2 separate regions of the Homo sapiens genome follow, and region 2 is linked to region 1. The links come from fine-mapping of genetic effects on gene expression. Tissue or cell type: tibial artery. Region 1 holds a variant in brackets; the other region holds the start of a gene. All regions are shown on one strand. Distances are from middle to middle. Region 1 has its middle 21 kb from the start of ADRA2C. Region 2 holds the start of ADRA2C (adrenoceptor alpha 2C).

What was found. PIP is the estimated chance that this variant, and not a neighbour inherited with it, causes the effect.
Region 2: ADRA2C starts here. The variant in region 1 is fine-mapped to the expression of ADRA2C in tibial artery (GTEx, PIP above 0.99).

The regions. Positions count from the first base shown.
Region 1 is chr4:3,739,725-3,750,141 of GRCh38, reverse strand. No RefSeq gene overlaps it. Among named protein-coding and RNA genes, the nearest start is that of ADRA2C, 21 kb to the left of the region's middle. RefSeq lists enhancers at 436-936, 3,540-4,065, 3,036-4,235 and a silencer at 2,846-3,016. The variant T/A (reference allele first, on the strand shown) is at 5,019.
Region 2 is chr4:3,762,153-3,772,569 of GRCh38, reverse strand. ADRA2C (adrenoceptor alpha 2C) reads right to left here and starts at 6,185. Exons shown (of 1, transcript NM_000683.4): 1 at 4,044-6,185. The coding sequence starts at 5,963. The coding sequence ends at 4,575. RefSeq lists enhancers at 1,027-1,712, 1,713-2,398, 3,085-3,770, 3,963-4,480.

The DNA.
Region 1 (10,417 bases):
GTTTGCATCTCCCTGCCTCCTGCACACATGCAGGGCCACAGCCTTTGGGGATCAGACCCTCTGGGTCCTCTGCCTGGTCCTGGTGCATCTCCCACCCCCAAGCCGCTGGTACTGCTGGGCCCGCCACTTGGTTTGGTAAAGCAGCTGCACACGTTTGTTCAGGAACAATGCTGTCCCTGGCTGCTTTCCCACTGCAACGCAATAGCTGAAAGGCAGAAGCCACCCAGATGTCCGTCATCAGGTGATGGATAAACACAGTGTGGTCCATCCATACCACAGAATATTATTCAGCCTTGAAGAGGAAGGACATTCTGACACAGGCTACAACATGGATGACCCTTGAGGACACCATGCTCAGCGAAATCAGCCAGTCACAGAAGGACAAACATTATCCAATTCCACTTACATGGGATTCCTAGAGCAGTCAAATTCATAGAGACAGAGAATAGAAGGGTGGGTGCCAGGGAGGCCCGGGAGTTGTTTAATGGGGACATCTTCTGGTTTACTGAAAACATCCTGGAGAGGTTTGGTGGTGGTGGCTGTGGGACACAGTGTGGATGTACTGAACACTCCGGAACTGGTTTAGATGGTAAATGTTATGTTCTGTGTATTTGACCGCAATTAAATTGTTTTTAATTTTGAAAAAGGAAAGCCTTCTGCATCTCAGGTGGCAACTGGGTGCTGGCTCAAATGCACTCCCTCTGAGCGAGCTTCTGGGGGCTCGCTGATAGCACAGCCACCCCGCCCAGCTCGACCTGGAATGCAAGGGCCCTGGAGCGCTTGTTAGGGATCGCCTATAGCCGAGCTCCACCGGGCGGGCATCCAGGGGATATGAGGGGCCACAGCCTGCCCACTCCACTCGCCCACTGGAGAAAGTCTGCGAAGGGTCAGTGTGGGCAGCTCCCCCTACCCAGGGCGGGGCTCAGTTTGAGGCACCATGCTCCCTGGGCAGTGCTCTGAGCTCTGGGCCCAGCCACCCAGGGCACCAGGCACCAGGGCTGGGCTCCTGCCTCTGCCTGCCCTTTCTGCAGCTGCACTCTGGTCTGGCTTCCCCAGGGGAGCTACAAGGGAGGGTCCCAGACTCTCTGGAGCTTTGGGGACAGCCCCCAGGAATCTGCACAGCAACAGGCTCCCTGGGGGACTGCCATCCAGGTGGGCCGAGAGACCACCGTTTGAGAAGCTGCTTCAGAATTCCCAAAGCTTTGTCCTTTTCTGATTTCACTTCATCCTCACCACAGCCCGGCAAAACAGGTATCAAGACTCCCCTTTAAAAACTTGACAACTTTATTGAGGCATCATTTATAGAGCACACATTTCACTTCGCTGCCGTGACGATCTGATGGAGTCTGGTAAATGCTTTATAAACTGTGAAGTGGTGTGCACACACGGGGGTTCGTTATTACAGCAGATTATAATTGTTATTACTGTACAAGCTTTATTATTATGATGGTGGGGTGTTCTTGCATCATTTATCTCAAGGGTTCCTGGAGGGGTAACTAGGTAGGGGGCATGAGTTGGCCGCTTTGCAAGATTTTTGCAAACAGCAGCGATTTGCTTGCATGCGATGTCTGTGTGCCTCACTTAGACACTTTGGTGGAGAGCAGGGTTTTCGTTGTGTTGTTTTTTTCAACATTTTGTTTGGACATAATTTCAAACAACAGAAAAACTACAAAAATAAAAATAGTACAAGAACAGCATAGACCTTTCACCTGGGCTTAATGACTGCGCCCAGCCTGCCCCATTTATTTTCTCATTGGCTTGCTTGCTGGTGCGCTGCGGGTGACTTTTCTGAACCATTCGGTATTAAGTTGCAAGCATGTATCACACCTCCTTGCCTTTAAAGAGACCCTAGAGACAGACAGCTCTTCCCACATCATCCCTAACTGTGTTAGGATGCGAGCTTGCCATCACAGCCGCATCCTAACACAGTCCTCTCTCCCAGCTGTGTTCCCGTGTTCCCAGCTGACCCCAGAATGTCCTTCACGGCTCTTGTCCTCCAGCACAGGGCCACTCTGGGGTCAGGTGTTGCATTGATGCGTCTTGTCTCTGTGGTTCTCTTTCATCTGGAACATTTCCATGGTTTTGGTCATGTACACTGCTGACATTTGGGAAGAACACGGGGCTTTTTTTTAATAGATGGGTCCTCATTTGGGGTCGTCTGGCAGTTCCTGGGACTGGACGGAGCCTGCACATTTTTGGCTTCAGCGCCACAAGAAAGAGTGTGTGTCTTTCTTGGGCACAGGATGTCCATTCGCCTCTCACTGCTGGTGTTGTTTCTGATGCTGGTGATGTTTCTGATGGAGGAGCTGCGGAGTGATCTGCTGGACAACCGCTCAGTGTTTCCTTCCAGCTCAGGGGCACTCTCGGGGGTCGGGGCGGGGGACGCTTTACCAGCATGGACACGGTCTGCTCCTCACCAGAGCTCCCCCTGGAGGAATGTCCCGTGAACGACGCCGGCCAGAACGTCAGCTTTGGAACCCGGCACTTCCCCGACATTCACCAGTCAGCAGCTGGCCTTCCGCTGAAACAACAGCCCTTCCATCTCACCTATCATCCATCAGTCACCTACCTATCTATCTATCCATCTATTTCTCAATCTGTCGTCTATCAATCAGCTATCTGTGTAATCCATCTACCTACCTATCTACCTACCTGTCACATATCTATCATCTGTCTATCTACCTATCATGTACCTACCTGTCTATCTTCTACACATCATCGACCTATCAATCATCTCTATCTCTCTGGCCATCAATCATCCGTCAGCTACTATAGTATGTTCTTTTGGATCCCCATTTTTTTTTCAAGGATTTGTGATTCATTGCTGTACTTCCATATTTTGGTGCTCAAATGGTTCCAAATTTGGTCAGAAGGCGCCCCTCCGTGCTGGCTCTGGAGTCTGTGACATGCCACCTTTGTTTGCCTGTGTGTGTGCCTCGTTACTTTCTGGCATAACATGATGTTCCAGGCTATTTTTGTACTTTTCTTGCACCAGCCCTAAAATCAGCCACTTCTCTGAGGAGCCCTGGTAATATAATGGGTAATATATTAGCAACCAAGGTCTGGGTATATAATGGGTAATATATTAGCAACCAAGGTCTGGGTATATAATGGGTAATATATTAGCAACCAAGGTCTGGGAGCCAGTGGCAAGGTCTGGGTGCCAGTGTCAAAGATAGAAGGGTTTTAAGCCTTTCAGCCGACAGACCTAAGAGATGCACACAGGCACATCACCCAGAGACACACACACACACACACACACACACACGGACATAAAGACAGGCACACGAGGACACGCGTCTGCACGTGCTCACGCACGCATGCGTGTTTCTGAGAGCATGACTCACGCATGCGTGTTTCTGAGAGCATGACTCACGCATGCGTGTTTCTGAGAGCATGACTCACGCATGCGTGTTTCTGAGAGCATGACTCACGCATGCGTGTTTCTGAGAGCATGACTCACGCATGCGTGTTTCTGAGAGCATGACTCACGCATGCGTGTTTCTGAGAGCATGACGCACGCATGCGTGTTTCTGAGAGCATGACGCACGCATGCGTGTTTCTGAGAGCATGACGCACGCATGCGTGTTTCTGAGAGCATGACGCACGCATGCGTGTTTCTGAGAGCATGACTCACGCTGACGTGCAGTCCCTGCCTGAGGGGTTCTTCCTGGCCCTCCACGTTCCTGATGGTCTGTCTCTTCTTCCAGTGACGTGGATGTGTGACCTGGTGTGCACGGCTGTGCCAGCGCCTGTGATGCCTTTAGTGTGGCCATGTTCATTCCACTACAAGAGTAAAACTCATGCACCAGAGAAGCTGCCCTGGGCCCGTTCGCACTCCCCGCTTACCTTCTGACCTTGCCTGAGGCTGCCGGACAGACACCGTGTTCATGGCTTCTTGGATTAGTTCTTCATTTCTTTTTGGTTTCCACTGTGGCTGTGTTCTTCATTTGAGATGTAATTTGCCCATTTTTCCCGTTTTCTGTCCATTTTATTTTTCCCTTTCTCATACCTCCTGATTTAATATGTAGAACACGAATATGCTTCTGCAAGTCAGAAGTGCAGAAAAGGTGTGCTGGGCTGCCTCCCTGGAGAATCCCTCCCCGCCCCTCCCCCACTCCCTGCAGGAAGCTAATCTAATTGTTGTCTTGTTTATTCTTCCTGTGCTGCTGCTTGTAAAGACAGGCAGTCGTATCTACACTCCGTGCAACAGGCAGCGTACTACTGTGTTGTTTGGCGTGGTGCTTTCTTTCACTTATCAATATCTTCTAGAAGTCTTATAGAAAAAATCAGCAAACTGCGTGAACACACAGTTCCCAAGCAGGGATGTAAAAACGGCCCTTAGCTGCCTGAAAAGGTGTTCAACTTCCTCACAGAAGAGAAATGCAAATTGAAGCCACACCAAGGAAACACTTCTCTGCCATCACATTGGCAAAAATCAAACGTCTGAGGACACACCCTGCCGGCGACGCTGTGGGGAAGGTCGTGGGATTAGAGCAGAGCAGCTCTTACACTTTGCATTTGTGCTTCTTAACTTTGAAAAGTTCTTTGTGTAGTAGAGACATGAGACATGAGCCTTTTCTCTAGGAAGCGAGTTCCAAATATTTTCTCCTGGTTCATTTGTCGTTTCGTTTTGCTTAGTTTTTTCCTTGCATAAGCTGCTTTCATTGGCAATTGTATGAATATTTTCTTTGATTACACCTGGATTTGTAGTCACAGAAAGCCCTTCTTCATTGCTCTTATAGAGGAATTCACAAATGTTTGCTTCTAGCATTTGTATATTTCAGTTTTTTGCATTTAGGACTCCCATCTACTTGGAGTTTATTCTTGGGCATGGTGTGAGAAATGGATCTAATTTTATCTTTTTTGCAAATGGTTTTCCACTTGTCCCAGTACCATTTTATGTGAAATACCAAGACCGTTCTAGTGACTGGAGCGCCCCCTCCTCACACACGGCGTCAGCGGGGGGCCTGTCTCTGTCCCTCCTCTCCCACGGCCCTGTGTATTTTTGTGTCATT[T/A]GGCACTGTTCTCATTAAAGAGGCCCCACTGCGTGCTTTAGCGTCTGATAGGGCTGGCCCCGTTCACCCCGCCCTTCCCTGGCAAGGCTTGTTTATTTTTCCATGTGAACGTTAGTATCAGTTCTAGCTCTCTTTGAAAGAGAAACGCATGGGGTTGTTATTAGAATCGCATTAAATTTATACCCTAAATTAGGGAGAGCTGACATCTCGGTGATGCTGGAACATCCTAACTGTTCTATTTCGGGTTTTTTTTGTGTCTTCAGGAGTGTTTTATGATTGCCTTCGTATAGGTTATGAACACTTATTGTTAAGTTTCTGTTGACGGGTTAGAGAGCACGGGTTTGGCTGTGTGCTGGTTATTCTCTGTGTGCCCCCCAGACACCCCCACCCAGCCTTACCCGTATCCCGTATGGCTGTGTCAAGGGGCGCCCCTGCCCACCAGCTGCTCATCGTGTATGGCTAAGAGGAAGCTCACAGAAAATAATGGGGTGGGGCGAGAGAGATCGGGGTTTTATCCCCAGACCCCTTCTCCCGGTCCTGGGCAGGAGCGCCTGCGTCTCCCTGCCATGGACTGCTGGGCGGCCCGGGCCCTCCTCTGGGGTCTGCCTGCGTCCCTCCTGTCCTCAGGCGTGGGTCAGCCCTGGCTCCCCGGCTACCTACCCCAGGTTCTGCTCTGTCCTTTCCTAGTTCCCCTGACTCTACCCATACCGTAGAGACCGCCCCTTCTTTAAACCCTCTGGGCTCACTCTGCTGGTGTGCGCCCTCTGCTCCCGCCTGGACTCGACTCGCTCTGCTGGTGGGCGCCCTCTGCTCCCACCTGAACTCGACTCGCTCTGCTGGTGTGCGCCCTCTGCTCCCGCCTGGACTCAACTCGCTCTGCTGGTGTGTGCCCTCTGCTCCTGCCTGGACTCTGCCCCAGGCACCTGCCCGGCACCCTCACCTTTTTGGAGAGAGCCCCTTGGGAGCCCACCCTCTTCCCACTCACTGTCCCTTGCCTTGCAAGGAACAGATCCCTCCCCAGCTCTTAAGGCAGCCGCATCAGGAGCGGCACTCACAGCAGACCATCCCCTAGGCCAGAGGGGTCTAGGGTTGGTGCACGGCCCCAGGCAACTCGGGGAGCTTCCATGCGGGGCTTTATCCAGAACTCCCGAAAAGAAGGCATTTCTCCTCACCCTAGAGGGCAGGAGCCGGGCTGTTCTTACCACCGGAAAGCACAAGCCTCCCTCAGACTAAAGCAGAACTGCAAGAAGAGGAGACTCCATCCCAAGAACGGGGTTCGGCTCCTGGATTCCACCACGCCCAGAGCCCGGGATTAACCTCCAGGCTTTTCCATCACATAAGCCAATAAAGTCACTTTTTTGTTTCAGCCAGTTTGGTTTTGTTTCTGTCACTTGCAACCTGGGTCCCCCGACCTGCACAGGCTTCCAGAGGAGTTTTGTACCGTGTGAGCCAGGGTGATGATGGGGAGCCCAAACACGAGGAGGGGCAAGCTGAAACCCATCAGAGAGAGTCCCTGCACCGCAGCTCAGGCCACAGCAGGACCTGTTTCCAGCCCCAAACAAGAGGTGACCTAAGCATCACACCATTCTTGGTTCAAGAGCCCCTCCAACATTGCAGGGGCAGGCCCACCACCTGAAGCCCACCCGCACCCCACCCCTGGGGGCTCAAGTCAAGATTCTGCAGGCCCAGGGCAAGCTGACCAGAGGAGCAGCCCCCAGAACCTGCCAGAATGAGGCTGTGCCTTTGGGGCAGGCTATGCAATGCATATGGTCACCCTCCCATCACTTATCTGCACATGGTCCTGGGAGGCACATCATATCAGCACCTCGATTTTGCAGTTGACAAAACCAAGCCTCAGAGAGGCTGATTGATTTGCCCACGGTCACCCAGAGAAGGCTCCCAGTCTGCCTTGCAGGATGGGCTGGCCAGCAGAAGGGGCGCGAGGCTTTTGCTTGTGGCCAGGGCAGTGCTGCAGGGTGTAGCTTGAACGTGGTCTGGCACAGCCATGAGATGTCACCTTGGTGGGGAGTTGGATGGGGGAAGGTGGCAGTGGAGTGGAGCCAGGCTTGGATGGCCTCAAACACCAGGCAGCTGAAGACTAATCCTAACACTGCCACAACTTGTAAGACTCTGCAACTTGTAAGGTTCTGCCTCCTTGGCTGCTGAGCTGGGTGGGTCTAGGGCTTGAGGAACACAGTGGATCACAAAAATGGCCTCAGCCCTTCACTCTTGAATGAGCTAAACAAATGGTTATTGTAAATTGCTAAATTGGGGCTGTTTGTTACGCAGCAGTAGCTAACTGACACAGGGTGACTGAAGGGGGAAAATAAATGAATGTGGTGACTACAGGGCCTGCATGGCTGGTCTTCTGCTGAACATGATGGTGCAGGGTCCTCACCACTGGGGACTGGCAGCATCCTGTGCCACAGCCTGGTGTGGAGCACATCCACACAGTGCTCCGTGACCCAGCGTCTCCTGCCTGAGGTCCCACCACAGAGAATGAGTCCCTCCAAGCCTGCCTCTGATGCCTGATAGAAGGTAGTCCCACTAGGGGCTCATTTTCTGCTATTGACATCTTGGTGGGATGAGGGGCCCCAGAGCAGGTTTAGATGCACTGGAGGAGCTGAGAGCTCTGGGGGTGTGAAGGGGGAGGAAGGGGATAAAGCTCACCAAGGGCAAATGTGGCAGCCAAATTGGGTCCCCCAGATTTATCCATACCCTGGTACCTGTGAACGTCACATTGCATATAATGTAATTTTGCAAGAAGGATTTTGTAGATGTAATTACAGTTACTAATCAGAGATGTTAAGACAGGGAGATTGTCCTGGATTATCTGGGAGGGCCTGGTCTAAGCACAGAAGGCATTAGAAACAGGGAACTCCATCAGGCTGGAGTCAGGGCAGTGTAGGAGAAGTCAGAGAGATCCAAAGAGTGGGAAAGACTCCACCTGCCACTGCTGGTTGGAAGATGTAAGGACAGTGTGATAGGGGATTCAGGGAGCCTTGCAGGGCTAGGGACAGCCCCACTGGCCATCAGCAAGGGATAGGGACCTCAGTCCTAGGATGGTGTATCATTCGGTTTATCTCCAGATAAACCGAACCCAGAGGTCGTGTGTGTGTGTATGTGTATGTGTGTGTGTGTGTGTGTGTCTGTGTGTGTGTGTGGTTGCAGGGGCTGTCAAGTCCAAAATCCGCACGGCAGGCTGGCAGGCTGGCAGGCTGGGAAGAGTTGTGCTGAAGCTCCAGTCCGAGTCCGTCGGCTGCCGAAATCCTCTCTTCCTCCATAGGGAGTGTGGCCTTTTCTCTGAAAGCCTTCACCTGATCAGATGAGGCCCTCCCACATCCAATCAGGTGAAGCAGATGGCCTGATTTAAATCTTAATCTTTAAGAAAAAAAATTACCTTCACAGCAACATTTAGAATATGGTTTGACTAAATAAATATCTGAGTACCATGGCCCAGCCACGCTGGAGCATAAATTTCACCATTCAAACTCAAGCATCGGGATTCTGCCACACCCTGCACCAGGCCAGAAGCAGGTTCTCACCAAGAGCCTCCAAAGCACAGCCAGGCCCTGGCATCTTGATTCCGGCCTGGTTAAACCTGGAGCAGGGGGACTGGCTGAGCCCGTAGGACTCCGGACCTACACAGCCGTGGGAGGAGAAACATGTGCTTCTCAACACCACGGAGCTTGTGGTCACTGGTTACAGCAGCGTGGGCAGCCCACAGGGTAAGCCCTTGATGGCAGCGGGCCTGCTGGGGTGGAGAAGCGCTCAAGTGGGTGAGATCGAGATGCCACACAGCTGAATCTGGGCATTGTCTTGGGCCTTTTGCCAAGTTCCAAGGTGAGCTGGCGTGAAATCTCTTAGCCAGCAGAGCAGGGAGATCTCTGTGACACTGCGGCTGAGGGAGACCCACCGGCCTCACATCAGGGATGTGCTGGCTGTTTCTCAAAGCCTCCAGTGAATAAGCCACAGTCCACCCCTCCACACTGTCACATGGGACAGCACCTCTTAAGCCATGGTCAGCCTTATCCTGATTGCCCTGGGGTCATTAGTGGCCTGCCACCCCTCACCTGCCCTTCTCACCCCGGGTGCCTCCCCCTCCAGCCTGTCCTCCAAGTGGCTGGGAGCCCAGGTGTGTGGTGCTCCTGGGACCTCCAGCCACAGAACAGGAGCTGTTCCCTCCTCCCCTGCTTCATCCCTCAGGACCCTGCAAAGGACTTTGCTCTAAAACCAGCTTCTGCTAAAGTCATTGATCACCTCAATTTCCTGAGTGAGGTGACATGGCCCTGGGGGATGGGTGACCACCCCAGCACAGGGATGATAGCAGAGACTTGGACCTCCTGATGCCCAAACCCAGCTCTTCCTCCACGGCATGGGGTGGTGCAGATGATGCTGTCATCCCACGTGTTCGTGGCACTTTGATCATTTTGAGGGACAAAAATCCTAAGTGACAGGTCATGAAATTACGGCCAGCATGGTTAATCAGCAGCGGAACTGGCCCCGGCCAGCATGGTTAATCGGCAGCTGAACTGGCCTCGGCCAGCATGGTTGATCGGCGGCGGAACTGGCCTCGGCCAGCGTGGTTGATCAGGGCGGAAGTGGTGTAGGCCAGCGTGGTTGATCGGGGCGGAACTGGCCTCTCTCCCTGTCACTAGCGGCAGAACTCGTCGAGTGGCCTATCGTGCTCTTTGATGAGCGTTTACAGCTGTGGCTTGTGTGACCTCTGATTCTCACGGAGAGGGCCCCGGACGCGCGTGGGGCCCTTCACAGTCTGGCAGTGCTGCTGTGCTGGGTTTCTGGGGGTGGAGGTTCCTCCCACACCCAGGCCACACCTTCTTCCAGCAAAGCGGGGCAGGGGTGCTGTGGGCAGGGTGGGCTTGCTGGCAAACCGCTGTCACATTCGCCCAGATAGCTGTGTTCTCCTCCTCTCCCTACTGGGGACTGGCCACTCCCCCAGGTCCTGGAGGGCCCAAGGACCAGGCTGAGGGAGGGAGGTCTCTTTGCTGAAGCTTGAGGGAGCCTGGGATCCAGGGATCCTGCAGAGCCCACCTGTGCCCAGGTCTGGGGTACAGGTGGCTCCCAGAGGGGAATCCTCAACTAACGGGAAACTGACAAGCTGGCGGGGACTAGAGGGCCACAGAGGCCCATGGGAGTCCCAGGGGTGCCTCACCCCGCCCAGGGAATCCCAAAGACTCCCTGGAGGAGGCCAGGCAGCTGGGCCACCACAGTTGGTCTGTGACTGTGGTTTCAGGGGGAGCATGGTGAGTGCTGCCCACGCACCTCAGCCCGGTGGGATGGCGCCAAGGCCTTGTGGCGCTGGACGAGGTCATCTCAGCTCTGCGCTGTGGAGGGGCCTCTGCCAGCTGCAGGCCACGCCCTCGCCTCATGTCCCTGGG
Region 2 (10,417 bases), 22 kb before region 1:
CCCTGGGCCTTGGAGTCTTAGGCATCTCCCTCCTCTGCTCCTCAGCTCTAGGGACTCTCCTATCTTTGTCAGCCCCCATCTCACATCCATGTCATGACCCTCAGATCCCCCCTGGCACGTAGCGGAGGCTGCCCATGCCTGCCCAGGGACGGTGGAGGCACCTGCATAAAGGGGTACCTGTGGCACTCCGCACAGGGCCCTCCGCACAGGGCTGCTCCTCCCCCACCCCTTGCACGTGGGGGCCACCACGGGCTGACGGGAGTGGGGACATGGAGGGGCCGTGGCTGTCCAACCAGCCTCGAGATGGGCCTGCAGGCGCCGTGTGTTTTGATCCGACACGGCACGGAATATTTGAGCCCTGCCGATGGATGTGATAGAAAAATACAGCCGGCTGCCAGCACAGCCGGGAAGGGCGGCTTCCTCGCCAGCAAGTGCCACGGCAACGTGTTTCCCCCACCCTCCAGCCCCCACCCCCGGAGTCGGGGGCAGGATCCAAAGCCTGGAGCTGCTTCTATAAAGTACTAACATTGCTGCCTGCACCAAGGAATATTTCCTTTTGAATTCCATACTGAGCTGCAATGGAATATTTGGATTCTTTCTTTTCCCTCCTTTCCTACCAACAGCCATAGGATTAAAATACAGGAGTTAATGAAAACATATGCATGTCTATGTATATCTGGTAGGAGCTGCATCTGTGACAGGCTTGGGCCAGGTACACAGGAACCCTGAGCAGGACGGCGTTCGAGCCAGCACCCTCCACACAGGGCAAGCCCTCCTCCGTCGGTAGTGGCTGCTTTATTTTATTTTGCCTGAAATCTCCCAAGAGCCCAACGGGGAGCTCTGCCCAGGAAACCGGTCGTGGAAAACGCTGCTCTGTGGCTTGCTTGGGACGGGGTGAGATCAGAGCCCAGGCTCTCTGCAGAGGGACCTTTCTGAGTCCACAGTTTGCTCTGCCCCCTCACCCCTAGGGGTCCCTGGCCACACAGTCACCTCTAGGCCTCAGTTTCCACAACCACATATGGGGGTTGACATCAGGCCACTCTGGATCCATGAAGTCGGCATGAAGAAGTGAGGCAGGCCCAGGCCTCGTCCGTGGAGAGGAGAGCCACTCAGGAAGTCAGGGGCCGTGGTGGACAGGTCGGCAGAGGGGAGGGCCCTGCTCTGGGCGTTGAGAAGTCCCCTTGGCGGGTGGTTCCTGGGCTGGGTTTGGAGGCACTCGGGGCTCATCTTACCCTCGGGGTGGGTGTCAGTGCCCCCTTCATGGATGAAGACACCAGGACTCAGAGCAAGGTGACACGTGTCCCTGCAGCAGGCAGGGTGAGAAGCCAGGTTTCTGTCTCTGTTTATCCAGCTGAAAAGAAAGTCTCTCCAGGCGGCAACCAAGATCGAGTGGTGAACATCTGCCGGCTGCAGTCCCGGCCATAGCCCTGGAGGGTGTGACTGGCAGGGTCAGGACGGGAAGAGGAGGAAGGTTTGCTGACATTCTTCCCCGAGCGTGTACCAGGCTGCGTGCCCTGCTGTATCCTCGAAGTTAATCTCCCAGGATCCCTGGGTGTGGGGGGGCTGTGGTTATCCCCTTGCAGGGAGGAGGATCTGCAGTTCAGAGGTGACATGCTCAGTCGGCCACACTGCTGAGCAGGTGACAGGGCAGGCTCCAGCCCTGGGAGGTTGCATTTCCTCTGCAGACCTCACAGCCCCCAGGGGGTCAGATCAAAACCTGACACTCTGTCCAAGCACCCTCCCACCAGCTTCTCCCCTGCAGCCTGGCACACGGCCCCTCTGTCCAGCCTCCTGTCTGCATTGTCTCCCCCTCCCCATGCTGGCACCCCATTTCCTAAAACACACTTGCACCTCCTACCTCCAAACCCTTGCTCATCATGCTGTGCCTCCACGTGGGGTCTGCCCTCAGCTGTGGGAAGTTGCCCATTCCTGAAGACCTCCCAGGAGGCAGTAGGAAATGGTGGAGATACTCAAGAAATACTTGTTATCTGGTTGAATTTGGGGCCAGGAAACCTGGGCCCTGTTGGGTCTTATCACCAGCTGTGTGACCTCAGGCAGGTTAATCCACCTCTCTGAGTCCCATGAAATGTACGAGTTATCCCATGAAATGCTGGTGCTCTCAAGGGAAGGGTGCCCTGGGCGGGACTTGGGGTCTTGAGTGCTGGCAGGTGAGGGGTTGGGGGTCTGCCCTCCCGTCTTGCAGTTGTGAGTTTTGGACCCCTCCTGCCGGCTTGGTAAGATGCAGATTCTGGAGCAGAAATCCTGAGCTCTGGAGTCTTTTTCATGTGTGTACAGTGATTCTCTCGCAGCCCAAGGCCTGCCCTCAGAGTGTCCCTGGGTGCGATGTCAGCCATGGAGTCTCTGAGGTGGGGTCTCCTGTGGTCCCAGGCTCAGGGGATAGATTGCCCAACAGATTGGCAGGCCTGGCAGGGCCCAAGAGGGCTCCCAGGACCCCCTCCACTTCCCAGGTGGGGCACCGAGGCCCAGAGAGCAGGGATTTGTCTGAGCCAGTACAACAGCTCCAGGACAAGCTGGGCCAACAGTTCAGGACTCCCTGCCCAGGCCTGGTCGGGGGAGGTCAGGGATGTCCTCATCGGCCTTGACTGGCCATGTTCTCCACCCCTCCCCTGCCCCCACTGCTGTCTGTATCTCCCCACCTGTGTCTGAGACTAGCACACAGCAGGTGTGAGCATTAGCACATGTGCCAGCTGTGGACACGGCTGGGAGAGCTCTTCCCAGCTGGGGTATCCTGAAGACCCATCATCTGGGGTGGAAGCCAGGCAGCTGCGGCGAGGGGGTTCTCCAAGGGCCAACTCTGGCAAGTCAGGTCCCCCTGCTCTGGAACCTGACTTCGCGGACGGGGGCTTGCAGAAGAACACAGGACCCAGGGCTGACCCCTCCCCAGGCAGACCCTGGCCCCCCATGCCAAAGAGAGAGGTGGGTATCCAGGATGGATCTGGGCTGGGCTCAGCAGGCAGGGTCTGGCAGGGGAGGGTACACATAGGGAAGCCCAGGGGGGCCTCCCAGGGATGGGAAGGGGGACGGGAATGGGGAATGGATGGTCACAAGCAGGAGGCCTGACACAGCCCCCACACGCCTACCGAGCTGTCTGTGCGTGTGTGTTGGGGGGACCCCTGCCCAGCTCCTGCCAGGCGCAGGTCCCGCTTTTGCCCCTCCCCTCCAGCCATCCTGGCAACTTCCAGGCCCTGTGACACGGCTGAGTCTGAGTGGTCCCTACACCATGAAGGCCCAGCACCAGGAAGCCCACCTTGGTATTCTGTCCCCCACTTTCCACTGCCCTTCCTCAAGCAGCAGTGTGAACAGTGTGGACACCTGCTGGGCCTGACGGTGGAGCAAGGGGGAAAGGCAGGGCTGCACTGGGAAGACCCTGGGGGCACCACAGGAAACAGGCCGGCCCCAGGCCCCTCTCCAGACATTGCTGGTTTGTTCCACTCCACTGCTCTGGGGCCTCAATGACTTTCAGTTTGTTTCGGAAATAAGAAAGTGCCTGTTGTTCAACCTGGCTCTGGCCAGGCCTCTGGCCTAAGAGTGATGGTGTGGGGGCTTGCCGGCCTCACGCCCACCCTCTCTCCACCCAAGAGCCACGCCCACAAAATGTTCAGAGCCAGGAGGACTAGCTCAAAGCTACTCTCAGTCTTGGACTGGAAGAGCCCCACCTCTTTCCACCGGAGGCCCTGAATATCAGAGTGGGGAAGGGCAGGGGGCAGGGATGGGAATGCAGGGAAGACAGTCCCCCAGAATCTAAACTTGGGGTCAACTTGGGGGTTCTAGGCTCCTTTCACCTCTTCGCTACTCTCAGCACAGGAATTTTGAGTACATATTTTCCATGTACATAAAGGGTTAGCTTGAGAAAAAGCAAGACCCCTCCTTCTCATGCAAGAAGGAAGTTGTAACCCGGAGGCCCAGGGTGCCCTCCGTCCAGCATTGTGGGGTGGGGGAGATGGGGGAGGGTGTCAGGCAGGGTGAGGGTCTGGAAGATACCCCCAGCCCCCAAGCTCAAGGACTGACTGCGGCACCCAACATTAGATTACAAAGGTTTATTTAGAAAATAGTTTGGTTGTTTTGGCTGTTGTTTTTGGCAAACATTTAAATACTTTCAGTAATCAAAGATTGTCGGTGCTTTCTCCTTGCCCCCTGGCAGCCACCCCCCGACTAGGTCCTGGAGAAGTCAGCCCTTGGTCAGACGGGGATGGGGAGTGGTAGTGTCTTTGGGGGGCTCCTTGCTTGCCCATTTAGGGGGCTACCTCTGCCACTGCTCTCTAAAACCCTGACCTCACAGCCACACCTCGGCAGGGCTCCCAGAGCTGGATCCAGGCAGGGAGCCCCAGAAGCAGCCCCTTGCTGAGGGGGGAAGGCAAAGGGGTCTCCCCCTCTCTCCTCCCCACTCCCTGGAGCCCGGCTATCTCTCTGCCAAGCTCCTGCCCTGCCGCACCCTCCCCTGCGCCCTGGAGGCCAATCCATCCCCGGGTCTCTGGGAAAGCTCCCCCGTCCGGGCCGCCCCTTCTGCCCAGCCCCGAGCGCGGAGCTGTCCAGGATTCCCAGACGGGTGCGAGTCACTGCCTGAAGCCCCTTCTCCTCCGTCGGAAGAGGATGTGCTTAAAGGATCGCCGGAAATCCTGGTTGAAGACCGTGTAGATGACCGGGTTGAGCGAGCTGTTGCAGTAGCCGATCCAGAAGAAGAACTTGAAGAGCGGGCCGGGCACCTGGCAGGCCTCGCGGCAGATGCCGTACAGGCTGTAGCTGAAGAAGAAGGGGAACCAGCAGAGCACGAACACGCCCATGACCACAGCCAGCACAAAGGTGAAGCGCTTCTCGCGCGCCTGGGCCACCTTGCGGCGGCACACGCTGCTGCGCGCCCGGCGCCGGCGCGACAGGAAGAACTCGACGGAGCGCGAGCTGGCGCGCGACAGGCGGCCACCGGGCCCCGGGGACCTGGAGGCGGTCAGCGCCCCCGACTCAGCCGCCCCCGGCCCCGCCCCCTGCCCGTCCGCACCGCCCGCGCCCCCCTCCGCGCCCGCTCGCCGCCGCCCGCCCCGCCGCAACGCGCCCCGGCGCCGCCGCCTCTCGGCCGCTGCGCTGCTCTCGTCCGGCTCCACGTCGGCGGGCGGGGGCGCGCAGTGCCCGTTCTCGCCTGCGCCTGCCGCCGCGCCCAGCCCGTTTTCGGTAGTCGGGGACGCACCGTCGGGGCCCACGGGGGCGCGCTTCTCGCTGAGCGTGCGCGTGCGCAGCTTGGCCACTCGGTAGATGCGCGCGTAGACCAGGCCCATGATGAGGCAGGGCGCGAAGAAGGAGCCGATGCAGGAGGACAGGATGTACCAGGTCTCGTCGTTGAGGCCGCACTGCGGGTAGGCGGCGCCGTCGGGCTGGCGGTAGAGCGAGACCAGCGGCGGGAAGGAGATGACGGCCGAGATGAGCCACACGGCCACGATGGTGGCCTTGACGCGGCGTGGTGTGCGCTTCAGGTTGTACTCGACGGCCTGCGTCACCGACCAGTAGCGGTCCAGGCTGATGGCACACAGATGCACGATCGACGAGGTGCAAAACAGCACATCGAGCGCCAGGTACACGCCGCACCACACCTGCCCGAAGTACCAGTAGGCCATGAGCTCGTTGGCCAACGAGAAGGGCATGACCAGCGTGGCCACCAGGATGTCGGCCGAGGCCAGCGACACCAGGAAGAGGTTCTGTGGCGCGCGCAGCGCCCGGCTGGTCAGCACGGCGATCACCACCAGCACGTTGCCCACCACGGTGAAGACGATGAGGAAGCCCACCACGGCAGCCAGCCCTGCCACCGCGCCCGCCGAGTACTGGCCGCGCGGCGGCCCCCAGGAAGCCCCCGAGGCATTGGCAACCCCGCCGCTGCCCCTCTCGCCCGCGCCGCTCGCATTGGGGCCCGCCGCTGCCGCCACCGCCAGCGCCGCCGCCAGCGCCGGGGACGCCATGGTCCTCCCGCGAGCTACGCCGTCCCTCCTGGAGCCGGGGCGCAGCCGCGGCAGCTCGGGCGCCCCCCAGCCGGGGTCGGCGCCCGCATCGCCGCCTGCTGCTCGGGCGCGCCCGCCGGGGACCGCGGCGCCCAGCAGCCGGCCCTCGGCCGTGGTGGCTCCGCGGGCGGCGCGCCGGAGAGCGTGGCTGCCGGGCTCCCCGCAGCTGCCGAGCGTGTAAGTGCAGAGCAGGAGGCGCCCGGAGCGAGCGGCGACGCGGCTGCGGGGGGAGGGGGGCAGGTCCCGGGGTCCTCGCGCGGCCCCGCCCTCGGCCCGGCTCACGGGGAGCGCCCCGGCGTCGAGCCCACGGCGACGCGGCGCCCGAGCGGGCGTGCCTGAGCGGCCCCGCGGTCCCGGAGCCCAGCCGGGGCGCAGGCGACAGGCGGCGGCGGCCCGGGCGCTCCGCCTCCCATCCGGCCGGCTAGGGCTCGGCGCGCCGGGGCGCCGGCCGCCGCTCCTCCGGGCCCCCGCGCCCGCGCGCTCCCTCCGTCTCCAACTTTACTTTCCCGGGCGGGGCGCCGGCGCCGCCGCGAGTCCTCCGGCTGCTCCCGGGCGCGGGCGCCCCCCGCGGTCCACGCTTGGCCGTGCGGCCGCCGCCTCGCTCGCCGGAGCTGCGCCGCCGCCGCCGCCGCCGCCCTGCGCTGGGCGCGAGTGCGGCCGCCTGCGATCGGCTTCCAACTTGGGTCGAGTTGCGCAGCGGGGCGGGCGCGCGGGGCGGGGCGGGCCGCGGGCCCTGGGGAGCTGGCCGGGAACCGGAGCCCGCGGCCGCCTGGTCGAACCTGCCCGCGCGGCGCCGGGGAGGAGTCCGGGGCGGCGGCGCGGGGCGCGCGCTCGGCGAGGGCGCCCCCTCCAGGGCCGCCTGCAGCCTGCGGGACGGGGCCGAGCGGCGGCCGGCCTGGGTGGTGAGTTCCAGAAGCTGCTCTTTCTAAGACTGGAGCCTCCTTCGCCTCCCCCGGCGCAGGCATGGGCGCAGGCGGGGGCGCGCACACGCGCGCGCGCAGCACGGGCGGCTCGGGGTCCATGGCCTGATGGCAGAGCAACCTCTCGCAGCCTGGGGGAGGACGCGACGCTACCTGCGTGCGCACAGGTCCTGCCGAGCTCAGGGTCCGGACCAGATCCTGGATCGGCGCTCCCCGTCAGAGCCACCTCCGCACCCACCCCGGCCTCAGTTCCCTCGGCCCACTTCCCAGCGCTGCTGGAGCATGAATCATAACTAACGGCGGTGTCTGTGGAAGCCCTGGGCAAGCTCCCAAGCTCTGCACCCATGTTAGCAGTGATTGAAGTTTAATCCTTAGGCTCTCAGGCCCTGCTTTTAAAGGATGGAGAGGTGTTCAAAGTCACCACCTCTGACAAACACCCAGAACGGAGCTGCCTGGATGATGGAGCTTTTTGCAAGGGTGGGCTCAGGGGAGAGCGGCCGTTGAGGTAGCCCCCGTGCACCCTCGCCCCCGTCCGCGCACCTCCATTCTGCAGATGTGCACTGCCACGTGCACTGCCACTCTGTGGCCCATGTTGGGTGCTGGCTTCTGCCTCCAGGCAGCCTGGGGTCTGTGGGAGAGGGACTTCCAGGGACGAGGTGATCCAGGAGGAGAGCTGGAGTTCTCAGGCCTGACGTTTCTCTGCTAGGACCGAAGGGACGACCCTTCTCCCAAACGTCCAGAAACGAACCCCAGCTGGCTGGCCTCTCCCTGCATGGGCCCGCAGGAGAGAGGGAGGGAAGGTCTGTCCATCCTGTGGCTAGAACCGGCGGGGAAGGGGCGCTTCTGAGTGCCCGGGAGGTCATCATGAAGAGCGGCTGGAGTGACTGCCCTACCCCCGGGATGCCTATCCATGCCCGTGGCCTGGGGCAGCTTCTCTCTGAGCTCCTGAAGGGCGCCAGCTTTAGCCTCAGAGCCTGTCGTGTTCTCTGCTGCTCAGCCCTACTGGGGAGCATGTCTGTCTCCGCAGAGACACTGCCAGGAGCTACGGCTTCGTTCTTCACCATGTTTGTCACCAGCAGGGCCTGCATTGGGGGTGTGGAGGCCGAGCCAGGGCCCGGCAGAAAGCAAATATTTCAGATGATGGGCCTGCCAAGCAGGGGCGCACGTTGGAGCCAAAGCCTTCTGTGCCAGTCCTGTGCTAGTCTAGGGCACATATGCCCTTCGGGGAGGCAACAGGCCATGGCTGTCCTGTGGGAGGTGTGTGACCTGGGGATGGTGGAGGGTCACCATCCTTACTAAAGGCCCTCCTGGTTCTGGTTGCCTAAAAGGTGCCACCTGTCCAGGGCACCTGGAGGTGCATTTTTCAGGGAAGCCCACACACACCTGCTTCCTTCATGGTCGGCCCGCTGGAGCCCTTGTCTCTATTGAGCCCTCTGCGATGGCAGAGAGTGAGGGGGGCCTGGCCTCAGTTGAGGTGCTCACCATCTGTGGGTGGATGGGGCCACCCACTGAGGTGAATGCGCTGACAACCATCAGTGCCCTGGGGCTCCTCCCCCAGCCTGGGAGCGGGGTTGTCAAGGAAGCCTTCCTGGAGGAGGTGACCAAACTGTGCTTAGAGAGTGAGGAGGTGTTATGAGGAAGGGGGAGGCCTCTGTAGGCTGTCCTTCTTCCAGTGGGAGTGGGCTTTGTACTGGGGGCGTGGGGAGACAGGAGGACTAGGAAAGAGCAGTGGCAGGGGCCAGATGCAGGCTTTGGAGAAGGTCTCTCTCCCTCGGCATCAGCGTGCCTCCCACCCCCATCCTGAAGGGCTCTCTTTTTGAGAAGTGCTTTGGGGGATGCGCAGGGGCATGGGGATCTATCTAGGATCCTGGCTCCTATGTTCCCAAGAGATGGCAGCCCAGGCACGGGAATTTGGAGGGAAAAGGACACGGAGCACCTGGGGCCCTGAGCCAGATGAGCCTCCCACTGCCCAGGAGGGCTGAAGGCAGGGGCCACTCACAGGCCAGGCTGAGGGCATCTGGAGTGCCTGGCCAGTGAGCGGCCCAGGCCCTTGGGGATGGCAGCCAACAGGCTGACATGCTGCTGGCAACACCTCCTGGCATGACCAGGGAGGGGTCAGAAGGGTCCACTCCAGGGCCTGGATGGAGCCAAGGGCAAAAAGCTGGGGCCTGGAGTCATTAGGAGGAGCGAAGCCCTGGGCCATGCATAGGGGTTGCATTGCACGCAGGCCTGCCTGTGGTGGGAGGGCCCGGGACCGCAGCTGTTTGCAAGGAAGCTGGAGAGGACTCTTCCCCCAGACCTTGAAATTAGGCTTGAGGAACTGCTCCGGATTGTCCGTAACAAGCAGAACAGCACGTACCCAGCAAGACTTCCTGTCCTGACGAGGCACGACGCGAGCTGGCACGACCAGGAGGGGCGAGGAAGGAGGGTGCTGGGGGAGTCAGGCTGCACTGGCGGGGGTTGTGGGGGCTGTCTGTGTGTACGTGTGCAGGGGAGTACATGGCAGAAGTGGGCATATTTCAGAGGGGAAACCTACAGGTGTTTCCTAGAACTGAGAACCTAGAAGTGGCACGTCCTGGAGCTGCAGAGGCGAACCTGCCTGTATCTCACCCATGATGCGTGGGGCCTAGGAGGACAGGGTTGGTCCAGCAGGGCCATACAGCCATGGGACATTGGGCCCTGGCTGCTGTGCCGGAGAGAGCTGGGTGCCTGCCTGGGATGCCGCGCTCTAGGCTTCGTGAGCAGCCTCAGCTCGGGTGGAGGGGAGTTTGGCTCCTTGAGCCCCCTCCCTGCACATGCAGGCATGCATGCACATACGCAGATGTACAGTGTCCACACACATATATGTATCCACACACATCCTTGTGCACACATAGATCCATGCACACACATGAATATACATATCATGAATACACGTGTGTTCATGCAAGCATGAACACCCATACATACACATATCCACACATGCATGCAAGCATGCAACCTATTCATGCACACTTGCATGCCTTCACACACACATGCATGCACACATCCACACACACACTGTCTACATATACCATGTGGATTTACAGTGCATCCATGCCTACAGAATATACACACATGTATGCACACATACATGTTCCCACACATGCACACATGCCTGCGTGTGCATACACATGCCCGTGTACTCTTCACATGCAGGTGCATATATACATATGCACTATCATACACACGTGCTTTTTGCACACGTATGTCTACACATGCATATGTATCACACTGGCATATGTAGAAATGATGCACCCATGCTGTGCACACACCTGTGCATACTGCGGGCACGCACAGCCTTCCCTGTGCAGATAACACGAATCCATGCACATTGCACACACGTGTGTATGCCTGTGCTGCACACATCTGTCCCTATGCATGACACCAGTCATGCATGTGCACACATGGCTTCGCATATATGGATGTGTACACACATATGCGGCACCTGTGGCCTTGCCCACCCTCCTAGGCTGA